7 linked regions of the Homo sapiens genome follow. The protein of the gene in region 6 purifies or fractionates together with the protein of the main gene of each other region. This does not show direct contact. Each region holds a gene or a part of one and is shown on either strand. Other genes may lie near its edges. The genes, in order: TFDP2, CABLES1, CCNT1, CCNE2, TTC14, CDK10 and NUDCD3.

What was found.
Region 1: the proteins of CDK10 (region 6) and TFDP2 purify together in Homo sapiens (affinity purification with mass spectrometry, with the first as the bait; one large-scale study listed by BioGRID). This does not show direct contact.
Region 2: the proteins of CDK10 (region 6) and CABLES1 purify together in Homo sapiens (affinity purification with mass spectrometry, with the first as the bait; one large-scale study listed by BioGRID). This does not show direct contact.
Region 3: the proteins of CDK10 (region 6) and CCNT1 purify together in Homo sapiens (affinity purification with mass spectrometry, with the first as the bait; one large-scale study listed by BioGRID). This does not show direct contact.
Region 4: the proteins of CDK10 (region 6) and CCNE2 purify together in Homo sapiens (affinity purification with mass spectrometry, with the first as the bait; one large-scale study listed by BioGRID). This does not show direct contact.
Region 5: the proteins of CDK10 (region 6) and TTC14 purify together in Homo sapiens (affinity purification with mass spectrometry; 2 studies listed by BioGRID and IntAct, with this or other methods). This does not show direct contact.
Region 7: the proteins of CDK10 (region 6) and NUDCD3 purify together in Homo sapiens (affinity purification with a luminescence readout; one large-scale study listed by IntAct). This does not show direct contact.

Annotation. Positions count from the first base shown.
Region 1 is NC_000003.12:142,139,545-142,143,044, reverse strand, and holds part of TFDP2 (transcription factor Dp-2), read left to right. Parts: intron 1-3,500. UniProt on the Homo sapiens protein: Can stimulate E2F-dependent transcription.
Region 2 is NC_000018.10:23,229,485-23,232,984, reverse strand, and holds part of CABLES1 (CDK5 and ABL1 enzyme substrate 1), read right to left. Parts: intron 1-3,500. UniProt on the Homo sapiens protein: Cyclin-dependent kinase binding protein.
Region 3 is NC_000012.12:48,703,208-48,706,707, forward strand, and holds part of CCNT1 (cyclin-T1), read right to left. Parts: intron 2,690-3,500; coding exon 2,561-2,689; intron 1-2,560. UniProt on the Homo sapiens protein: Regulatory subunit of the cyclin-dependent kinase pair (CDK9/cyclin-T1) complex, also called positive transcription elongation factor B (P-TEFb), which facilitates the transition from abortive to productive elongation by phosphorylating the CTD (C-terminal domain) of the large subunit of RNA polymerase II (RNA Pol II).
Region 4 is NC_000008.11:94,888,702-94,892,201, forward strand, and holds part of CCNE2 (G1/S-specific cyclin-E2), read right to left. Parts: intron 1,850-3,500; coding exon 1,714-1,849; intron 1-1,713. UniProt on the Homo sapiens protein: Essential for the control of the cell cycle at the late G1 and early S phase.
Region 5 is NC_000003.12:180,605,163-180,608,396, reverse strand, and holds part of TTC14 (tetratricopeptide repeat protein 14), read right to left. Parts: intron 2,632-3,234; coding exon 2,560-2,631; intron 2,145-2,559; coding exon 2,025-2,144; intron 1,917-2,024; coding exon 1,794-1,916; intron 750-1,793; coding exon 632-749; coding exon of another isoform or gene 602-631; exon of another isoform or gene 1-601.
Region 6 is NC_000016.10:89,689,689-89,693,188, forward strand, and holds part of CDK10 (cyclin-dependent kinase 10), read left to right. Parts: intron 1-864; coding exon 865-936; intron 937-1,754; coding exon 1,755-1,857; intron 1,858-2,117; coding exon 2,118-2,199; intron 2,200-2,760; coding exon 2,761-2,828; intron 2,829-3,500. UniProt on the Homo sapiens protein: Cyclin-dependent kinase that phosphorylates the transcription factor ETS2 (in vitro) and positively controls its proteasomal degradation (in cells).
Region 7 is NC_000007.14:44,484,159-44,487,658, forward strand, and holds part of NUDCD3 (nudC domain-containing protein 3), read right to left. Parts: intron 1,127-3,500; coding exon 810-1,126; intron 1-809.

The sequences.
Region 1 (3,500 bases), on a different chromosome or scaffold from region 6:
AGACTGGTCTTGAACTCCTGACCTCAAGTGATCTGCTCGCCTTGGCCTCCCAAAGTGCTGGGATTACAGGCGTGAGCCACCTTGCCCAGGCTGATTTGATTTTTGTGTATGGCAAGTGATATGGGTCTGGTTTTTTTCTTCTGCATTTGCATATCCAGTTTTCCCAGCACCATCTATTGAAGAGACTGTCTTTTCCCCAGTGTGTGTTCTTGGCATCTTTGTGGAAAATGAGTTAACTGTAGGTGTGTGGATTTGTTTCTGGATTCTCTGTTCTGTCCATTGGTCTGTGTGTCTGTTTTTATTCCAGTCCCATGCTGTTTTGGTTACTATAGCTCTGTAGTATAATTGAAGTCAGGTAATGTGATTCCTCCAGTTTTGTTCTTTTTGCTCAAGATAGCTTTGGCTATTCTGGGTCTTTTGTGGTTCCATATAAATCTTAGGATGGTTTTTTCTATTTCTGTGAAGCATGTCATTGCCATTTTGATAGGGATTGCCTTGAATCTGTAGATTGCTTTGATAGCAGTATTGACATTTTAACAATATTGATTCTTTCAATCCATGAACATGGAATATTTTTCCATTTTTTTGGTGTCCTCTTCAATTTCTTTGATCAGTGTTTTATAGTTTTCATTACAGAGATCTTTCACTTCTTTGGTTATTACCTAGTTATTCAATTTTATGTGTGGCTGTTGTAAATGGAGTTACTTTTAAAATTTCTTTTTCACATTGTTCACTGTTGGCATATGGAAATGCTACTGATTTTTGTATGTTGATTTTGTATCATGTAACTTTACTGAATTTGTTTATCACTTCTATTAATAATACTTTTCTTGTGGAGTCTTTAGGTTTTTCCAAATATAAAATTGCATCATCTGCAAACAGGGATAATTTGACTTCTTCCTTTCCAATTTGGGTGCCCTTTATATCTTTCTGTTGTCTGATTGCTCTAGATAGGACTTCCAGTACTTTGTTGAATAACAGTAGTGACAGTGGGCATGCTTGTCATGTTTCAGATCTTTGAGGAAAGGCTTTCTAGTTTTTCCCCATTCAGTATGATACTAGCTGTGGGTCTGTCATATATGGCTTTTATTATGTTGGGGTGTGTTCCTTCTATCCCCAGTTTTTTGAGTATCTTAACTTCTTTGCAACATAAATATTTTATTTAAGACCTATATGTCCTTTTGCAACATATTTCATGCTCTTTTGACTTTTTTTTTTTCTTGAGACAGAGTCTTGCTCTGTCACCCAGGCTGGAGTGCAGTGGCATGATATCGGCTCACTGCAACCTCCGACTCCCGGGTTCAAGTGATTCTTGTGCCTCAGCCTCCCAAGTAGCTGGGATAACAGGTATGTGCCACCATGCCTGGCTAATATTTGTATTTTTAATAGAGACAGGGTTTTGCCATGTTAGCCAGGCTAGTCTTGAACTCCTGGCCTCAACTGATCTGCTGCCTCAGCCTCCCAAAGTGCTGGATTACAAACTTAACCCACCACACCTGGCCTATGTTCTTTTGACTTTAAAAGAAATTAAATAGATCTTCGTTCAAGATGGCCGAATAGGAACAGCTCCAGTCTGCAGCTCCCAGCGTGATTGATGCAGAAGATGGGTGATTTCTGCATTTCCAACTGAGGTACCTGGTTCATCTCATTGGGACTGGTTGGACCGTGGGTGCAGCCCACAGAGGGTGAGCCGAAGCAGGGAAGGGCGTCACTTCACCCAGGAAGCACAAGGGATCAGAAGATTTCCCTTTCCTAGTCAAGGGAAGCCGTGACAGACTGTACCTGGAAAAATGGGACGCTCTCGTCCAAATACTGGACTTTCCCCATGGTCTTAGCAACTGGCAGACCAGGAGATTCTCTCCCGTGCCTGGCTTGGCGGGCCCCACATCCGTGGAGCCTTGCTCACTGCTAGCGAAGTAGTCTGAGATGGACCTGTGAGGCTGCAGCCGGGTTGGGGGAGGGGTGTCCGCCATTGCTGAGGCTTGAGTAGGTAAACAAAGCGGCCAGGAAGCTCAAACTGGGCGGAGCCTACCTCAGCTCAGCAAGGCCTACTGCCTCTATAGACTCCACCTCTGTGGGCAGGGCATAGCAGAACAAAAGGCAGCAGAAACTTCTGCAGACTTAAACATCTCTGACAGCAGTGGTTCTCCCAGCATGGTGTTTGAGCTCTGAGAATGGACAGTCAGCCTCCTCAAGGGGTCCCTGACACCCGTGTAGCCTAACTGGGAGACACCTCCCAGTAGGGGGCGACAGACACCTCATACAGGTGGGTGCCCCCCTGGGACGAAGCTTCCAGAGGAAGGATCAGGCAGCAATAATTGCTGTTCTGAAATATTTGCTGTTCTGCAGCCTCTGCTGCTGATACCCAGGCAAACGGGGTCTGGAGTGGACCTCCAGCAAACTCCAACAGACCTGCAGCTGAAGGACCTGACTGTTAGAAGGAAAACTAACAAACAGAAAGGAATAGCATCAACATCAACAAAAAGGACATCCACACCAAAACCCCATCTGTAGGTCACCAACATCAAAGACCAAAGGTAGATAAAACCACAAAGATGGGGAGAAACCAGAGCAGAAAAGCTGAGAATTCTAAAAACCAGAGTGCCTCTTCTCCTCCAAAGGATTGCAGCTCCTCGTCAGCAACGGCATAAAGCTGGACGGAGAATGACTTTGATGAGTTGACAGAAGCAGGCTTCAGAAGGTTGGTAATAACAAACTTCTCTGAGCTAAAGAAGCATGTTCTAACCCATCGCAAGGAAGCTAAAAACCTTGAAAAAAGGTTATGGCTAACTAGAATAAACAGTGTAGAGGAGACCTTAAATGACCTGATGGAGCTGAAAACCATGGCATGAGAACTTCGTGAGGCATGCACAAGCTTCAAAGGCCGATTTGATCAAGTGGAAGAAAGGATATCAGTGATTAAAGATCAAATTAATGAAATAAAGCGAGAAGACAAGTTTAGCGAAAAAAGAGTAAAAAGAAATGAACAAAGCCTCCAGGAAATATGGGACTATGTGAAAAGACCAAATCTGTGTTTGATTGGTGTACCTGAAAGTGACGGGGACAATGGAACCAAGTTGGAAAACACTCTTCAGGGTATTATCCAGGAGAACTTCCCCAACCTAGCAAGGTAGGCCAACATTGAAATTCAGGAAATACAGAGAACACCACAAAGATACTCCTGAGAAGAGCAACCCCAAGATACATAACTGTCAGATTCACCAACGTTGAAATGAAAGAAAAAGTGTTAAGGACAGCCAGAGAGAAACATCAGGTTACCCAAAAAGGGAAGCCCATCAGACTAACAGCGGATCTCTCGGCAGAAACCCTACAAGCCAGAAGAGAGTGGGGGCCATTATTCAACATTCTTAAAGAAAATAATTTTCAACCCAGAATCTCATATCCAGCCAAACTAAGCTTCATAAGTGAAGGAGAAATAAAATCCTTTATAGACAGACAAATGCTGAGAGATTTTTTCACCACCAGGCCTGCCTTACAAG
Region 2 (3,500 bases), on a different chromosome or scaffold from region 6:
GCAAATTGCTCCCAGCCAAAGACAAAGTCATCAGGTAAGAAGAGAGGAGGGAGCCAAGCGAGTGGTGAGAAGAGAAGGGAAAAAAGCTATCCTCCAATATAGAAAAAAAAACAGGGATGCTCTGATTCTGTTGAGCCATCATCCTAGTCTCTGGGCATTACATGAATGAGCCGGCTCCCTTATCCTACCCATAATGTGGAGTCTAATTAACAGAAATGCCCAAGACCTTCTGTGCCCAGTAAGTGCTGCATTTCCACAGCAGGCTTCCTGGGAGGCCATGGTAGTGCCACCCTCAAAACATCTCTGGAGTCCCGTTCAGAATCGACACCAAAGTCATGCAGAAGAAAGCCAACAACCAACTCTGTTCACACCCACAAGACCGTCTGCCCTACTGCTGCAGCTGCTATGCAGGCACCCCAGGGCGATTCTCAAAAGGCTTCTTAAAGCAATTAAGGATGGAGATGATGAATGCACAGGGGCACTGGCATAGGGAAGTGCCTACAAAGCAAAAACGTGAACAAGGCAATGAAGCAAAAATACCTGCGGTGGGCAGGGAGGGAGGGGACTGACCACATGCAGAGCAGGACAAAAACAGCAGTGTCTTCCTTTTCATTCAAGGACCAGCAGCTCAGTTCCATGGGCTTCCTACTTTTCCAAAGCCAAAGCCAGCAAGCATGGTCTTCAAATTCCCAACTCCCAAATAATTTTCTCCTTGTTTCCATTTTGCCAGATGGAGAATGTTACTTAGGGCTGAAATTAAGAGAGAAGTAGGGAATATCTTTTTGGAGTGAGTAGGCCAAGGGAAATAAGGAGAATTCCAATAAGCCCATACTGAGAGGGTTCTCAGATGGAGAGCTGGCTGCAGGCAGGGGCAGTCTCAGTCCATTTTCATATCCTGTCTATACAACGTCTGATATGTAACGAACTATTTACTGAGCTGAGCTAGTGTGGCTCTTTGCTGTCTCGCCGGTACTGGTACATGCAGATGGCATGAAACTTGGGTGATTTTCCACTGTGCCCCTTTTCATCTGTCTTCAATTTGCTCACAGGCTCACTGCTTCCCCGGGGCAGCCTTGTCCTGGCCAGCTGTCTGCCTGCCGCCAAATGTGCACATCACACATCACAGTTAACAGAACCAAACCAGTCGCGCCTCTTCCACACTCCCCTTCTTGGCATTTCCTCCAAAGGAAATGAAGCCCTAACAAAAAAAAAATATAGTCATGTGCTCGTATAAAGTCCAAGATTCTATTCCATGAGATAAAACCCAAACCCATTTAAAGAAACAGGGATTCTTAGAAACAGGGATTCCAGTGGATTGTCCAAGCGTCTCAGCGACACTTGGGACCACAAGAAAGACGGGCAAGGCTCCACCAACCCTACCCACAGAACTGGTCCCTCGAGAAATAACGTGACTCACTGCAGTCACCACTTCCCCCTGGCTTTCTACTTACGTCATTCTACTTTCTAAATTGCTAAGGCTAAGCCGAGTAAGAAAATAAGCAAGAATAGTGGGGCCACCCTCAACTGCTACTGGAGACACGTGAGGCTTGTTACAGACCAGTGCCACGCAACAGAACTTCCTGTGATGACGGAGATGGTCCTTATCTACCGTGTTCCATACGATGGTTACGTGTGGCAACTAAGTGCTTGAAATGTGAACAGTTGACTGAGAAACTGAATTTTTATTTAATTTTAATTAATTTAAATGTAAATTGCCACATGTGGCTAGTGACTACTAAGACCCAGTGCTTCCTTGGCAGGACTTTTGCTACCCTTATTTTATAAGTTCCTATGGCAAGATAATATAGTCATAGATACTCAGTGACATGGATTTGGTCTCCCAGTTTTCTTCCCAAGAGTGGCCTATTTTCTGCCTATTGCCTCTGGGGATGTTTAAATTACAGGCCACTGCAGAGGGAGCAGCAGTGCAAGATTCTCCTAAGTCGGAAGGGAAATGACCATGGGGTCCATGATCAAATGGGACCCATGCCTTGCACCATCAGCACCCCAAGAACAGGGCTCCCAGCCATGATAAAGATTCGTAATTCACATCTGGCACAGAGCAGCAGATCTTTTTGCCTGGAGGGGTCACGGGGCGGGTGTGACAGTTTTGGCAGTGCTAGGGCAACCAAAGGAACAACAACCAGCATGTGTTCCCCAAATCCTAGGCATTACAGTAGGTTCCAGGCCCTTCTTTGCACAATACTGGAGATGGGGAGGGAGGAATGCCCAGTGAAAAGTGAGTCTCAATTTCCCCTCAGCCTTGTAGAAGGGGGGTTTACAGTTCATATTAAGTAGATTTAAAAAGAAGAAATGAGGTATTTCTTGTACGCCAAAGCTAGTCACACTTCAAAACTTCGCTGATACAGTAATAAATATCATCTCAGCTCTAGAACACTGACAGCTTCGTGATGGCAGAGGGCAACTTTTCCACGCTTTTCCTCCCTCAGATTCAGGGAGAGGTTATCACTAACTTCAGGGCTACCATTTTGCTGGCCTGGAATTAAGAGCATACACGTACAGGCGTGGGCATAGTCAGCCGTCCACAGAAAACAAAACAGATCTCATTTCTAACAATGTCAGTTTCTTATAGGTTTTTTTTGTTTTTGTTTTGAGATGGAGTCTTGCTCTGTCACCCAGGCTGGAGTGCAGTGGTGCGATCTCAGCTCACTGCAAGCTCCGCCTCCTGGGTTCATGCCATTCTCCTGCCTCAGCCTCCCGAGTAGCTGGGACTACAGGCGCCTGCCGCCATGCCCGGCTAATTTTTTGTATTTTTAGTAGAGACAGGGTTTCACCATATTAGCCAGGATGGTCTCGATCTCCTGACCTTGTGATCCGCCCGCCTGGCCTCCCAAAGTGCTGGGATTACAGGTGTGAGCCACCGCGCCTGGCCCTTCTCATAGCTTTTTAATTTGTATATGTTAAGACTCTTGGGATCTAAAAAATACATCTTTCACAAAGAGGCTGACAAACTTTTCCGGGTTCATTCTTCTTAGGTAAGGGCTCTGATCAATGTTGCTGGAATCTTTCTGATATTAACATGAAACATGAAATTGCTGTTCTTTGGTCGTACTTGACCCCCATAAACAGCAGTTTCACATTGTGCCACATAGCTTAACAGCTCAGGCAACTGCTCAGTCTTTATGTGTGAGTGAAAAGCAGGCAAGACCCATGGTCTTTGCTGTCCCTCTCTTTTGGAAGCCTAGAACGTTGGAGTTGCATGCAGAAAGGAACTCTGAATGGTGGAGATTCGCTCCAAAAGAATCTTTTAAAAACTCCAGTGAGAAAGAATGAAGCAGAAGTCCCAGTGGAGTGTGATGAAATCTTGGTATTTTCTAAGATCATTGTTCTGAATTCTCATTAAAATGGTATATTAAAAATAGAAATATCTGTTTGGCTGAAATGCCAGCACTAACTCTCCAGCACCAGGAAATAGAGCTAGAGAATGTCGAACTGCAGCTGAAAGTAATTAAAAGCAAACTGAAGTTGAAGTTTTCACT
Region 3 (3,500 bases), on a different chromosome or scaffold from region 6:
ATCGAGACCATCCTGGCTACAATCTTGCCACTGCACTCTATCCTGGGCAACAAAACGAGATTCTGTCTCAAAAAAAACAAAGCTGGCTGGACATGGTGGCTCACGCCTATAATCCCAGCACTTTGGGAGGCTGAGGCAGGTGGATAACCTCAGGTCAGGAGTTCGAGACCAGCCTGACCAACATGGAGAAACCCCGTTTCAACTAAAAATACAAAATTAGCCGGGTGTAGTGGCACATGCCTGTAATCCCAGCTACTCGGGAGGCTGAGGCAGGCAAATCGCTTGAACCCAGGAGGGGGAGGTTGCGGTTGGCTGAGATTGCACCATTGCACTCAATCCTGGGCAACAAGAGCAAAACTCCAACTCGAAAAAAAAGTTAAAAAAAAAAAAAATAGTGAAACTACTCATTTAAGGATCCATAATAAAAATGTATAATAATATTTTTCAGCCAGGTGCAGTGGCTCACGCCTGTAATCCCAGCACTTGGGAGGCCAAGGTGGGCGAATTACTTGAGCTCAGGAGGTCGAGAGCAGCCTGGGCAACATGGTGAAACCCCATCTCTACAAAAACTAGCTGGGCATGGTGGCGCACACCTATAGTCCCAGCTACTCGGGATGCTGAGGTCAGGGGGATCACTGAGCCCGGAAGGTCAAGGCCGCGGTGAGCCATGATCACACTACTGGACTCCAGCCAGGGCAACAGAATGAGACCCTGTCTCCAAAAAAAAAAAAAAGAATATTTTTCATAACATTTATAGTGATTTTAAAAGCTAGAAATTATCTAGACTTCTTCATGGAGAATTGTTAAAAATACATACATTCACATATATATCATTAAATACTAGCCAGACATTTTTAAAAAGTAGAGAATCCATCAGATGGGAAAATATTTGGGATATAGTAAGCAAATGAAAACAAACCAGAGACAAAATACATGCACACATAGCTATCTATAGAAAAGAAGCCACAAATAACAGTGGTTCATTAGTATACCTGTGCTTCAGTTGTCTATATAACAGGGGGTCCATGGCCTGTTATGAACTAGGCCACACAGCAGGAGTTGAGCAGCAGGTACGAGTGAGTGAAGCTTCATCTGTATTTATAGCCTCTCCCCACCATACATATTGCCACCTGAGCACTGCCTCTTGTCTGATCAGCAGTGGCATTAGATTCTTATAGGAGCACTTGAACCCTGTGGTGAACTGCCCATGCAAGGGATCTAATTTGCTGCTCTTTATGAGAATCTAATGCCTGATGATCTGTCACTGTCTCCCATCACCCCCAGATGGGACCATCTAGTTGCAGGAAAAGCACCTCAAGGTGGCCGGGCACAGTGGCTCATGCCTGTAATCCCACCACTGTGGGAGGCCAAGGCGGGCAGATCACAAGGTCAAGAGATCGAGACCATTCTGGCTAACATGGTGAAACCCTGTCTCTGCTAAAAATACAAAAATTAGCTGTGTGTGGTGGTGCACACCTGTAGTCCCAGCTACTTAGGAGGCTGAGGCAGGAGAATCGCTTGAAACCGGCAGGTGGAGGTTGCAGTGAGCCGAGATTGCGCCACTGCACTCCAGCCTGGCGACAAGAGCAAGATTCCGTCTCAAAAAAAAAGAGATGCTCAGGGCTCCCACTGATTCTACGTTATGGTGAGTTACGTAATTATTTCATTATGTATAACAATGTAACAATAATAGAAATAAAGTGAACAATAAATGTAATGTGCTTGAATCATCCCAAAACCATCTCCAACCCCACCCCCTGTCCATGTAAAAACTGTCTCCCATGAAACCAGTCCCAGGTGCCAAAAAAGGTCTGGGACCATTGGTCTAGAATATATCTGAGAGATATTTTATTCTTGAATTTTTCTGTATTTTCAAATTTTACTGCAACAAATACAAAACTTTCGCCATAAAATTTATGTGTTTTGTTTTTCAGACAGAGTCCTGGCACTGTTGCCTGCAGTGGTGTGATCATGGCTCACTGCAGCCTCAACATCCCATGCTCAAGCAACCCTCCCACCTCAGTCTCCCAAGTAGCTGGGACTAAAGATGTGAGCCAGCATGCCCAGTTGTTTTTTGTTGTTGTTGTTGTTGTTGTTTTTCTTTTTTTGTAGAAATGGGGTCTCACTTTGTTGCCAGAGCTTGTCTCGAACTGGACTCAAGCAATTCTCCTGCCTCAGCCTCCCAAAGTGCTGGGATTACAGGCATGAGCCACCACATCTGGCTTTTTTTTTTCTTTTTTTTAAATATAGAGACAGGGTCTTGCTATGTTGTCCAGGTTGGTCTTAAACTTCTGGCCTAAAGTGATTCTCCCACCTTACCCTCCCAAAGTGCTAGGATTACAGGTATGGTGAGCCACCATACCTGGCCTGATTTTCTTACTGTTAAGAAAAACACAAACACTAAAATATTCTTTTAACAACACCAATCTAAACTTCAATAAATCGAAGTTATAAAATTAAGTTGCATTGAAATACATAAAGATCCAGGCATGCTTGGGAGTAGGGAAAAAAAAAGAAAGGAAAAAAATTAAGAAAAACAGATGTGTAATTAATCTCCTACCTCACTTCTAGTATCAGGAAGGGATTCCTGAGGATGGAGACAAGTATGTGCTACCTTGATGACATGTTCCAATTTTTTGGGCTGCTCCTCCACTTTAGCTGCTAGAAACAAGGCTGCTGGAGCCACAGACTGAATGGAGAGAAAATAAATCATATTTATTATCAATTTATTCATTCATAGAGTAAGGTAGATCTAAAGAGGAGCTAAGTCTCAAATCAAGTTATTTGCTTGCCTCAACTTTGTCACCTCTTTACCCTTTCCCGCCCCCCCGCTTCTACCATCTTCCCCTCTCCTACCCATTAATCCATCTCCACTTCCAAATACCAATTCTTTGACAAACTGTCATTAAAAGCTGTCTATGGGAGAAGCTACTAGATGTAAGCAGACAGTTTTCTATTTAAAGTGAGATTCTTTATTAAGTTTGTATCAAATCACTCAATACATTTTTTAAGGAGTAAACTGAAATGTCCAGAATACGCAAATCCATATAGAGAAAAAGTTTAGTGGTTGCCAGGAGCTGCGGGGAGAGGAGTATAGGAATAACTGCTAATAGGTGAGGAGTTTTCTGGGGTGATGTAAATGTTCTGCAATTAGACTGTGCTGATGGTTGCACAATTTTGCGCATATACTAAAAACCAGTGAACTATATAATTTAAACAAACGAATTTCATTGTACGTGAATTATATCTCAATTACTTATACATATCGAACCTTTCAAAAATACAAAGCATGGCATTATATGCAAGACATTATTTATAGAAAGCATTAAGAGGGAAAAATTGAAGTCAATATAAAAGTAGATAACAAACTTTATAAAAGATTAAAGCAATATGACATAAATGTAGCCTGGTGATCTTGGAAACTTCAGGAAATAGAACTTTTCTTGAATATTAAGAACATTTCAGTGACTCAAAGATAGTAATGCTAAGAGCTGTATTTC
Region 4 (3,500 bases), on a different chromosome or scaffold from region 6:
TTTTAGTAGAGATGGGATTTTGCCATGTTGGCCAGGCTGGTCTCAAACTCCTGGCTTCAACTGATCTGCCTGCCTCAGTCTCCCAAAGTGCTGGCATTACAGGTATGAGCCATCACACCTGGCCACATGAGTTTCTAATAATGAGTTAAGAAAATCTCTTTTGCTGGCCGAGTGCGGTGGCTCACATCTGTAATCCCAGCACTTTGGGAGGCCAAGGCGGGCGGATCACTTGAGGTCAGGAGTTCAAGACCAGCTTGGCCAATAGGGTGAAACCGCATCTCTATTAAAAATACAAAATATAGCAGGTGTGGTGGCCTGCGCCTGTAATCCCAGCTATGTGGGTGGCTGAGACAAGAGAGTCGCTTGAACGCGAGATGCAGAGGTTGCAGTGAGCTGAGATCGTGCCATTCCATTCTGGCCTGGGTGACAACAGCGAGGCTCCGTCTCAAAAAAAAAAAAAAGAATGTCGAATTTCAAAAAATGTCTTTTGCATCTATTGAGATCTTAGCATTTTTCTTATTTACTGTTAAGGTAATAAATTAATAGATTTTCAAATGTTGAATCAAGTTTGCATTCCTAGACTGAAGAATACACTAAGATAGAGTTTAACACTGCTGGATTTGATATATTCTGTATGCTGTTGCATACATAATCATATTTAGGTAAAAACAGGAACAAATTGAATTGGATAACCACTGGATGAATATCAGTATAACAAAAAGGAAACAAATTAAAAATTAACATAATTGTGCTTAAGTTGATTCCATGATCACTAGACAGTCAGAAAAAGTCAAAACCCAATGCCTTCTTGTGCCCACAATTAAAATACAATCTTTCCTTCTAGTCAGAATAAGGAAAAAGATGACCTGATGCAAAAGGATAACATTTTAGTCTTAAAAACTGTTCTGATAGCTTCTGAGATCTATTCTGCCATGTGTTCCTCCTCCAAAAAGTCTATGGTCTTTTTCCCTTAGAATGCTTCATCTCTTGTCTTAAAGACAGACTACAGAGCAAATATCCAAGAGTTGGAGGAAAAATCAGTTTGTCATCAACATAAGTAATGATTTCCTTAATAATAATTTTAGAAACTTTTTTAGAGCTATTATCCAGAGGAAAGGGAATGGACCTAAACAAGAGAGAAAAATCTGGCACAAATCTATAGGGGCTTCAGGATCACTATTCCTTTAAATTAATGGTATATTTCGGAAAAGAATAGAAGAATATAATAAAGAGAAGGTATCTGGACAATAGAGGGCGTAGAGCTTCCAGATATCCATAGTCTCATTATGGTTTAGGATATAGAAATCAGGATTCCTCATCATCATGATTTTGTTAATACAGAAAAAGACTTCAGAGGGCCCTGAAGCCTAGTTCTAGTTCTTCACTTTGTATAGCATAATTCAAAACCTAATCAACTATACATTCCATTCACCTTGAGTATCTGTGGCACCCAGAAAGTGGTTGGTACACAGCAGTATCCACAGGTAACAGGAATTCTGAATTGGGTTTAGTTATATGTAGTAGCTTTGTCATGGTTTTACTCTTATAGAGTCACTTTCCACTTTGGGTGCAATCAACTACAGTAAGTACCTCAAAAAAGACAGCTTCCTGGGGATGAACAATAAACTCTTGAGAGTACATAGAAAGCACATTTACAGCTAAATATGTTTCCATCATACAGAGACAAAGGAAATTTGTATTGCTGTAACATACCTCTAAAAGCCAGTCTAGAAGTATGGACCTCATCTGTGGTTCCAAGTCAGAATGCAGAACTTCAAAATGTTTGTCATGAACATATCTGCTCTCCTTTTTTAACATGTTTAGCCAGACTTCTTTTGAACATCCCCAGCTATGGAAAGAGAGGAAAAAAACCATATATATATATATATATTTTTTTTTTTTTTTTTTTGAGACAGAGTCTCGCTCTGTGGCCCAGGCTAGAGTGCAGCGGCACAATCTTGGCTCACTGTAATCTCCACCTCCTGGGTTCAAGCGATTCTTGTGCCTCAGCCTCCCAAGTAGCTGGGAGTTACAGGTGCCTGCCACCAAGCCTGGCTAGTTTTTGTATTTTTAGTAGAGATGGGGTTTCACCATGTTGGCTGGGCTAGTCTCGAACTCCTGGCCTCAAGTGATCGACCTGCCTCAGCCTCTCAAAGTGCTGGGATTACAGGCGTGACCCACCATGCCCGGCTAAAAAACATAATTTAAATTGTGCAATCCATGTAATATACAAACTCTGTTTCACATAGATAAAATTCAACTTTCAGACATTGAAATGCAACTTTTAATTAGAACTTGGAAGAAGCTCTTAAAGTAAATAAGAAAAAAAACTTCTGCCTTAATTTTTGGAAACAATTTCCTTTGCATGAATAAATAGAAGCCTGAAGTAACACAGTGGGAACCTGGACTATGATCATCCAAACCTGCAGATTTCAAGGGAGTGCTTTCTAGTTCCACTTATTTATACTTTACAAAGGTTGCTGTTAAAAGATAACCACGTTGCTTTTCCCATAAGTGGTCTGAAGTAATCTGTGAAAATAGCTGGCTATTCACTTTACCTGGAAAACCCCACAAAATCATGCAAATCAAGAGGTTCAAATCTTTGTGTTCACTGTAAGAACACTCGTGAAACTGCCCAGGCTATCAAGGGTATGCATATATGAAAAACCACAAAGTGGCCGGCACAGTGGCTCACACCTGTAATCCCTGCACTTTGGGAGGCCAAGGTGGGTGGATCACTTAAGGTCAGGAGTTCGAGACCAGCCTGGCCAACATGGTGAAACCCCGTCTCCACTAAAAATACAAAAAATTAGCTGGGCGTGGTGGCATGCTTGTAATCCCAGCTACTCAGGAGGCTGAGGCAGGAGAATCACTTGCACCCAGGAGGTGGAGGTTGCAGTGAGCCGAGATCGTGCCACTGCACTCCAGCCTGGGCAACAACAGCAAACCTCTGTCTCCAAAAAAAAAAAAAAAAAAAAACACCATGAAGTATTTTTAAAATGTCACTTTACAGAAACAGCATGTGCCATTCTGACATTACAATGGTGGAGTTGGTAGGTGTACCCAGGCCAAGCAGTGGGACTGGACACAAGGTTGGTGGCCCAAAAAGAGTGCTGAATTTTTGCTGCACATGCTTAAAAATGCAGAGAGTAATGCTGAACTTAAGAGTTTAGATGTAGATTCTCTGGTCATTGAGCATCTCCAAGTGAACAAAGCACCTACGATGTGCCAACGGACCTACAGAGCTCATGGTCGGATTAACTCACACGTGATCTCTCCCTGCCACATCGAAATGATCTTTAGTGAAAAGGAACAAATTGTTCCTAAACCAGAAGAGGCGGTTGCCCAGAAGAAAAAGATATCCCAGAAGAAACTGAAGAAACAAAAACTTATGGCACAGGAGTAAATTCAGCACTAAAATAAATGCAATTAAAAGTGAAAAAAAATGTTTTCTCAAGAGCAATACAAAAAAGTTAAACACATAAGGCATGTGATCACAG
Region 5 (3,234 bases), on a different chromosome or scaffold from region 6:
AAGTACATAAAAATTATTTTTAAAGATTGAAAAATTTAAACAGGACACATTTTACAAATAAAATTCAAATAAAGACATTCCGTTAAGGTGAAGTGAAGGAGGAATCACCATGTTCAAATACAAACCATTTAAAAAAATAGCACAGCCCAGTTGGATGCATGATTACATAGGAAATCATTTTCCAGTTTGTGGATGGGGATGAGCAGCACCAGATGTCACAGACACAGCAGCAATGGTCCAATTCAGAAGAAAATGCATGAGAAAACATCATCATCAGTATTACAGGAAAAGACAATTTAAAATATGTCTCAAAAAGGTTTTTATAATTAGCTCAATTATAGTAGCAACAATAATTTAAAAACCACCAGGTGAGCTCCCTATAAGGACATTTCTCAAAACAACATACCAAATTTAGGTAATAGTTTTCTCACAGCTATCTTTACTTTCGATTATGGACAAAAACAGAGGCACTATGAAGCAATGTCAAACCCAATTAGGAAAAACTATACCTAAAAAGAAACTTTTCATAATGCCTTACTTAAGTAATGTAGAATAGTTTTCCTCAGGAGAAAATTAAGTTTGGGCATTATTTCAAATATCACTAAATTTCTAAGAGGAAATAAGGAATCACCTGCATATATTTATGAAGTTTCTGCAAAGCATCCTCTGCATCTTTAAAAGTCTCATCCAAAGCCAAAGCTTTCTTATAGTAACTTTCAGCATTTAAAAACTTTTCTTCTTCTTCTAACCTAAATTTGAAAGAAAGATTTAGCTTTTTTGTAAAAACAACAAAACTATCCAAATATGCATACAGGTCAAAGGCTTATATGAGAGAGCTTATTAGGGAAAAGCCAAGTAAATTATTTTCCAAAATAAAATACCAAAATAATATGCTTTTTACTGTAATTTATTTCATAGACCACATAAACAGAAATCTTACTAGTAACTAAAGGTATATGTCCAATATTGGCACATTTTTGCAGTAATACACAAAAACCCATGATAAATGGGTGTCCACAAATTTAGTATGATCTTGAATTTTAGCACAGAATTATACCAGCAGGCTTTTTTCCCTAGTAGTTTATGAAAAATTATCTACAGAAAATTTTGGAAATCTTTGGAAATACCAACATACACATATATCACAATGAGCCTGTAAATAGCATAATCATTAGATGAATTTCACAAGTCTGGGTTGTGAAACACCAGAATGAGAAAGTTTGGACATAAAGCAGTCAAAAGATGTTGCAAAGTGCTTTGGGTTCTTAGAAGGAAAAAGAAATTACTATAAAACAAATACAATGGGATCACTTTTGTGTCAGTAGACTGGATATGGGAAACAAAGGACAAGTCAAAGATGAACAGTATCTCTGGCTTAGGTAACTACAGGGTATTGCTATTCACTCAGCTCAAAGACATCAATACAAGGCTATAAGACAACCACATATAAGTAGTTACTAGTTATCCACCTAGTAAGTATGTAAAAAGCTGCTCCAATCATTAAATAGAAGTTCCTATAAATTATAAACGAATATTGCAAAATTTAATCAACTTGGAATTTGTGATCACAAACAGGAATGACTACACAAATAGTATAGTCATTAAACCAAAAACTTTTGAGTATATTATCTAGGAAAAGAGTATTTGCCTAATCTCTTGTACTTTCCCATTTATTTATTGAAACCAAGAGTGTTATAAATTAAGTGCTTAAGAAACTATTTCCTTAAGTTCAAAATTTTTTAGTGGTTGGTTGAACATTAGACCTCCACTATTAAACAAAATCTGATACTTACTGTCCTCCTCTCTCTACAAGTGTCTGGCAGAGGTATTTTCTTGCATTTCTGTGAGTTGGACAGTTTTCTAATGCAAGCTCAAAATCTTCTATTGCTTTGTTCAAACTTCCTTTTGTCGCATATCTAGAGACATGAAACAAAGATAGAGGGCTGTATCTCACAAGCTCTTCATAAATCTTGTTCGCATTTACCTGGTAAACATTCCTTAAAATCCATGTATGATTCACTTACAATGCTCCACGAGCTACCAAAGCTTCCACGTTTTGTTTGTCTATTTCCAAAGCTTTATTGTATTCATTCATAGCATCCACATGGCGTCCAACTTTAAAATAGTCAACTCCGATCTTCACACTAAAAAAGACATTTGTAAAGCATCACAAACACTTCAAACAATATCTAAATAAAATGTTAGTGTGAATAAGTTTTAAAAGCAAATGTCATCAAACTTGGCAAAATATTTAGTTTTCAGAGTACTCACAATATACCTAAGGAACGTTCTTCTGCCTTTGGACATTTTCACAACAAATATTGGTGAAACCTAGATATCAATATACTAATTCCTTTTGAGAAAACTGAAATGCTGAGTAAAACTTATCTGTTAAGTGTAAAATGTAAGACTACTTACATCTATAAAAGAAAAGCTCATGTCAAAAAGGCATCACTTTAATGCATCTCAAATTTGTCTTATTGATGATATAAGCATGCTTGCCTTGCCCTAAGCTTTTAGACTAGATATAATGCAATTGTTGAAAGACAGTCTTCATACCATTTTAAAGCCCAAGATGCGGATTGTTTTTTTCTCAATGCAGAAGCAAAATCATCTTCAGAGAAATTTTTGCTATTAAAGAAAATAAAAATTAAAAAGTTAAACCACAAATATTTTTTAAGTAACTATACTTAACTCTGCTTGACAGGCACTCGACAGTGAAAGTATGAATCCCAAGCAAGAAATCTGCATTCTATTTACATACCAAAATCTTTGAACTTTCGAAATGATTATTATTGTTAAACAGTATTTTTCTTGGCCAGGTGCGGTGGCTCACGCCTGTAATCCCAACACTTTGGGAGGTCGAGGCGGGTGGATCACGAGGTCAGGAGATTGAGACCATCCTGGCTAACACGGTGAAACCCCAACTCTACTAAAAATCAAAGAAAAAAAAATTAGCCAGGCGTGGTGGCGGGCACCTGTAGTCCCAGCTACTTGGGAGGCTGAGGCAGGAGAATGGCGTGAACCCAGGGGCAGAGCTTGCAGTGAGCTGAGATAGCGCCACTGCACTCCAGCCTGGGTGACACAGTGAGACTCCGACTCAAAAAACAAAAACAAAAAACAAAAAAACCCAGTATTTTTCTTTAGCATACACACAAAATTCTTATAAAAAGTTTCTGCATCCTTCTCTACTTGGTTACATGGTACACATATTAATCACTGATAAGACAGTCC
Region 6 (3,500 bases):
TTTTGTTTGTTTTTGAGATGGGTCTTGCTCTATTGCCCAGACTGGAGTGCAGTGGCATGATCATAGCTCACTGCGGCCTCGACCTCCTAGGCTCAAGTGATCCTCCCACCTCAGCCTCCTGAGTATCTGGGACCACAAGAGTACATAAGCACACCCAGCTAATTTTTAAATTTTTGGTAGAGATGGGATCTCCCTATGTTGCCCAGGCTGGTCTTGAACTTCTGGGCTCAAATGATCCTCCTGCCTCGGCCTCCCAAAGCACTGGGATTACAGGTGTGAGCCACTGCACCCGGCCAAGCCTAGGAGTTTGAGGCTGCAGTGAGCTGTGATCACGCCACTGCACCCCAGCCTTGGCAACAGAGTGAGACCCTGTCTCAAAAAAACCAAAAACACCACACACAACTAAAGGTTATAACAGATGTGAAATTGGCGTAGGTCATTCTGGAAGCTGCACACATTAGCAGGATGTTTTGTAGAGCCATCTTCACACAAAATAAGGTTTGCTTTTTTCTGCATAGAGTACCTTATTTGCTTTTAGGACATTACAAGAGAGCACAAAGCAGTGATCTGCATGCTAAGGAGGACATGGAGAGCCTGGAGCCACAGAACTGAGTGGCTGGAGGCCAGGGTCCAGCACAGAGCAAAGTTGGGCACCCCCTGCCCAGTTCAAATGAGGAAACCCTCCGGGGGAACGCGTCTCGGGCTAGGGGCGTTGCACAGAGTGGGGACTGAGTGTCACTGGGCATGAGGTTGTCAGAGGAAAGAACGGGGACCCCTGTGGCTCAGGGAGAGCCTCCCGTTCAGCGCTAGGGAGCCCACGAGGGGCATCGAGATGATGTCATCACCAATGTGTTTCCATTCCAGATCGGGCCCGGGACACCCAGACAGATGAGATTGTCGCACTGAAGAAGGTGCGGATGGACAAGGAGAAGGATGGTGAGCAGGAAATTGGGGTGTTGGGACCTCGCACTGGGAGGAGGCAGAAGGATGTGAGTTACCTGAAGTTTCCTCAGAGCGACTGCACGGTGCTTGTAGCGGGGGCCGGCCTCTGGGAGGGTTCTGGTGTGGCCCAGCACATCACCCCCAGGTCCACACGCAGCCTCAGCTGTCTGCCAGGAGGGCTCTGCAGTCTCCATCCCCTCCTCCCCCTCCTGTCTGGTGAGGCCACCTCACTGCAGGCTCAGCTCTGCTGTCCCCTCCACCCCCAGCACCTGCCTGTGCAGGCAGGGCCCTGCCATGCCCCACATAGATGTCCACGGTGTTTAGAGAGGTGCCGATTCGTATTTGGTCAAGGAAGAGTTAAAAGTGCTTATTGGGCCGGGCATGGTGGCTCATGCCTGTAATCCCAGCACTTTGGGAGGCCGAGGCAGGCGGATCACCTGAGGTCGGCAGTTCAAGACCAGCCTGACCAACATGGAGAAACCCCATCTCTACTAAAAATACAAAATTAGCCAGGCGTGGTGGCACATGCCTGTAATCCCAGCTACTAGGGAGGCTGAGGCAGGAGAATTGCTTGAACCCGGGAGGCAGAGGTTGCGGTGAGCCGAGATGGTGCCATTGCACTCCAGCCTGGGCAACGAGCGAAACTCCGTCTCAAAAAAAAAAAAATGCTTATTGGGGTCGCCCCAATTCTCCCTGAGGTGGGGACACTGCAGCACCTGCTATCAGGTGTTCGTGAAGCCCAAGAGTGGCTGGGGTTGGGGCTTCCCCGCCATCACTGGGGTGGGGCTCGCTGAGGCCACCTCCCTCCCCAGGCATCCCCATCAGCAGCTTGCGGGAGATCACGCTGCTGCTCCGCCTGCGTCATCCGAACATCGTGGAGCTGAAGGAGGTGGTTGTGGGGAACCACCTGGAGAGGTACGTGGTCTCCTGGTCTGCACATTGGGCCCTAGGGAGCATGTGTCTTGGGCTAGAGGTGTTGCACAGAGCGAGGACTGAGTGTCACTGGGCATGAGGTTGTCAGAGAAGAGATGACCCCACCTCACCGCCTGGCTCAGCCCATTGTCTGAGGGGGACACAGGTTGTCCTGCCCATGTCCCCTCCTGCAGCAGGGGAGGCTCCACTTCCACCCCTTAGGAGAAGGCCGGAGAGTGGCATGCATCTTCTGTTTCTTCCAGCATCTTCCTGGTGATGGGTTACTGTGAGCAGGACCTGGCCAGCCTCCTGGAGAATATGCCAACACCCTTCTCGGAGGCTCAGGTGCGTGGCAGAGGGGCCTGGGGTGGGGGAATGGGCTTCATGGGCCCTTGTGGTGCACATTTATAACGAAACAGGGCACTTGGGGACTTGAAGAGCTGCTGCTGCCTCTGCCTCCACCTCCCAGTGTTTCAGCGAGCTTCAGTGAGGTGGAATTCCTGTGGTGGGGGCATCTGCTGGGAGCGGGCAGCCCCAGGGCCGAGAGCCTTATGAGGGCACTGGTTTCCTGGGCTGTTGGGAGCAGGCAGCCCCGGGGCTGAGAGCCTTCTGAGGGCACTGGTTTCCTGGGCTGCTGGGAGCGGGGAGCCCTGGGCGGAGAGCCTTCTGAGGGCACTGGTTTTCTGGGCTGCTGGGAGAGTGCAGCCCCGGGGCCAAGAGCCTTGTGAGGGCACTGGTTTCCTGGGCTGCTGGGAGCGTGCAGCCCCGGGGCCGAGAGCCTTCTGAGGGCACTGGTTTCCTGGGCTATTGGGACTGCTAGTCCTGCTGGCCAGTGTGGGTGTGGCAGGGCCCAGCTGGGCTTCCCTGCAGGCTCACCCTGACTGGTACCTCTGACCCTCTGCACAGGTCAAGTGCATCGTGCTGCAGGTGCTCCGGGGCCTCCAGTATCTGCACAGGAACTTCATTATCCACAGGTGGGTGACAGCTAGGCAGAGTTGGAAGCACAAATTCGGCTGAGGCCTAACTCTGCTGCCCCTGTGGAGTTACTAAAAGCTCAGGGGTTCCCAGCTGCAGCAGCCTGCCCGCTGCTCGCACTCCATTTGTGTTTTTTTCTAAAATAGAGAAGGGGTCTCTCTGTGTTGCCCAGGCTGGTCTCACACACTTGGGCTCAAGTGATCCACCCACCTTGGCCTCCCAAAGTGCTGGGATTACAGGTGGGAGCCACCACACCCAGGCATGCACTCCGATTTTTAAAAGGTCCAAACATCAACAGCATGTAAGAGTTAATGAAAAAAAAAATAATAAAGATACTACGCCGGGCACAGTGGCTCACGCCTGTGATCCCAGCACTTTGGGAGGCCGAGGCAGGCGGATCACGAGGTCAGGAGATCGAGACCATCCTTGTTAACACAGTGAAACCCCATCTCTACTAAAAATACAAAAAAATTAGCCGGGCGTGGTGGCGGGCGCCTGTAGTCCCAGCTACTTGGGAGGCCGAGGCAGGAGAATGGCGTGAACCCGGGAGGCGGAGCTTGCAGTGAGCCGGGATTGCTCCACTGCACTCCAGCCTGGGCGACAGAGTGAGACTCTGTCTCAAAAAAAAAAAAAAAAGATACTAAAAAGCCCAAAGCTGAGGAAACGTGCAG
Region 7 (3,500 bases), on a different chromosome or scaffold from region 6:
TTTCCAAAAAAACAAAGCAGGCCAGGAGGCTCGTGGCTGTCTTGCAGACACTACTACAACTCCCACACAAGAAGGGATCAGCTCCTCTCACTCAGACTGTAAGGAAGGACTGTATAACTAAGTTTAGAGCACCCACAAAACATAACTCCTAAAAAGTGAGTACAAGTACATAAAGCAAGAGGCTTGATTCAGGGAAACCTCATGTCATATTCAAGCTCTACTGCTCATTAGCTGCTTGACTATCGGCTCATTTAAAATTCACAACAGCTCTATGAGACAGGTACTATTATTATCACCTACATTTTATAGAGAAGAAAACTGAGACACAGAAAGGTTATACTGCTTGTTCAAGGTAATACATTCAGGAAGCGGCATAGCGAGGATGTGAATCCAGTCACCTAAAACAGACTGTCATTTCAGGTGTCCATTATACCTCAGGCATCATGAGCAAATCCTAGCAGTGCTCCTGCAGAGAGAAAAACACAAACAATCGAGCTGCTGAGGCTAAGCCTCTAAACACAGATAAAGTTAGGTCTTTGTGAGAGGAGTCAAGTGCTCTAATTTTGGCTCTGGATCTCAAATGGTTGTATGACTACTGACCTTACCAAATGAGGGAACTGACCTTAAGCCAACTGACCTCCCATCCTACATAACTGAAAGACTGTAATGCAGCAGTTTACAAACATGAAGAGCTAAATAAATACTGAGATCAAGAATTAATGTGTTACAAAGTAAGAATAAATTATGGAGAAACCCAAACACCAGATGTTACGCAAGAAAGAAGGAAGCTGCAAAGTAGAAATTCCCACCTGGGAAGAATTGGTGGTTCCCTAGGGACTTCAGCAGCACCAGCAACTGCTCCTGGAGCTTCTGCCTCCTGTGAACCATGGGCCATTTCCTTCACAGGGCCTGGAGGCTGCACTTTCTCTACTTCCTGATGCCCATCCAATTCTGTGGTGGAGTCAATCTCTATTTCCTGGACTGGAACTGGGACTGGCTCCTTCTCAGCTGCAGCAGCTGACACAGTCTTGGCCTCTTCCTCTTCCTTTCTTCTGATTTTCTCTTCAAGTTCCTGCCTTCTCTTCTCATCATCCTGACGGGCCATGTGGTCAAAGGTTTTGAATACCTAAAATCAAACACCAATCCAGCAATCAGTTCATCTGCCCAATACTGTACCACATATCTTGTAGAAATGTCGTAAAATCTGTGAAGGAGAGAACTAAAAGTCAGAAACTGACAAGTTTTCCCACTGGCAAAATGGAAATGCACTGCCACTTCACCAAAAGCTGACAGGTAAACAGTGTTTAACAGGAGGATTCCAAAATCAACAAAATCAGAAACTTATAAGCCAAGGCTAACAATATTTACATACCTAAAAGATGTACAGTTAGATGGTCTTTGTTGTCATTATTTTACAGACCCCAGTCTTGTTCACAATGCAAAGAATACACGGTCCTGGTACAACTGTGGGTTATAAAGGCACCAAAATTCAGACTCACAAATGAAACATGAAAATATGGCTGAACTTCAATTCCCAAAATGGAACCAGGTTTACAGGACTGCTGCTGTTTTTCACCACACTGCATGGACATTCAATTCAACAAACATCTACTATGCGCCTACAGTGTGCAAGAAACACGCACGCACAAAAAACATCAAAATGATTTCTGCTGCCTCCTAAGAACTCAAAATTCTGGTGTGTAAACAAGTTCTTAACATTTTCTGGGAAACAGTCACACCCATGAAGGTGCTGGGACCTCTCTACCAAAAAAGTACAGTCAAGACATACCCACACATGAAAACTCTGATACAAGAGGGGGCATGACAAGGCCCTCAATTCCCTGTCAGGGTATGGGTGGGAATGAGCATGTCTGGCGAAAGAAATCTAGGGAGACTTCTTGGAACAAGGAGGATCCCAGTTAGACCCTGAATGAGAGGCACATCTTCCACAGGGAACCACTGGAGGAAATGCCACAGCTCTAAGAATAGGCTTGTCAAGGAAGGGCAAAAGCTCTTGCAATAACTGGAGGAAGGAAAGGCTGAGACAGCAACCTGGGACATGGGTGGGAGTCAGATTCCAAAGGGCTAGAATGCGGACAGGTATTAAATAACAATGTTCTGTGCACTGCGCGGGCAGTCAAAAGGGTGCTAACAGACTAACTGTGTCAAATTATTTTACAAACATTCTCTCAAAACCCTCACAAAAATACTGTGAAGAAGACAGCATCAACATTTCAAAAATGAGAAAAAAATAAGGCTTGGAAAGGTTACGTAACTTGCCCCAGCTCCTGCTGGCAAAAGAAGTAAAAAACTACGCAGCACACACCAAACAGTGTGGGGAGATGATGATGTAGGCAGAGGGGAAAAAAAAAAATCAATAAAATCCTAAAAGGTTAAAAACTGGAAACAACACCAGAACCATTTTTACTTCTGCAGATAACCTGAAGCCCTGACTTCATTCTAACATTAGGGTCTCTACCGCTTTGAGTCCATGCTTTCAGAGTTGCTCATCCTGCTGATACTCCAGATCTTCATCTTAACTCCACAAAAGCAAAGCAACAAGATCTCTCTCTCCTAACACCTGAGACTTCGAACACAGAACCCCCAGACTTGATAGTCCTCACCATGCAGCTGCCTCTGCTCACTCAGTACATCCAGCCTTCTCTGACCTACCCATTCACACCACCAGGAAGTGCTACCACTGCCAACCTCCCAACTATCACATGTTCTCAGTACTCATTCTAGAGTCACAGAACATAGGGCTGGAAGAGAACTCTAATCTGTAACCTCCAATCAATCTTCTCAGCTGACAAGAGGTGAAGTGACTCTCCCAAGATTTCTCAACAATTTATGTAAGGAACAGGATGTAGCTAGCTTTCCTGATTCTAGTTTCAAGGACTTCTACAAAGGAGCACTTCTCAAAGTGGACTCCAAAAAAAACAGCATTATCGATTATAATGAATGGCTTGTCAGTCTAAACGATTTTTGTCTTAAAACATACTAATGTATTATAAAATGGAATGCAATTTTCACATACATCATTCCTGCTGAGGTTCTTCAAGCTGTGTATCCAGGCTATGCAAACTTTTAAAAGGAAACGTATGAGCTGCCTAACTCTACACCAACACTGTACTCCCCAAAATATTAAGGGAACGCTTTGAAGTTCCACAATGATGCAGCCCAGCACTCCCATCCAAATTCTTCTCTGCCTATATTCAGCAGAGACACCAAGCATCCCACATCTGGTGGGGGTGGAGAGGCAGACCCCAGGAAGGAGTCTTATGCCATCAAGTTAGGGACAGAAAAAAAAAAAAACCCTAAGAGGCAGATGAGTAGGAGTGGGGAGGTCAGGAGATCACCTACTACCACGAAGAAATAATGTTATGCTGGTACCAAGTCACTCAGTCTCATTCAGTGTTGTCCCACCCCACAATAAAACCCTTGTCAATACTGAAATCACCTTTACAAACCTCCTGTCAAATGAGCTTTTGTGGATAAAA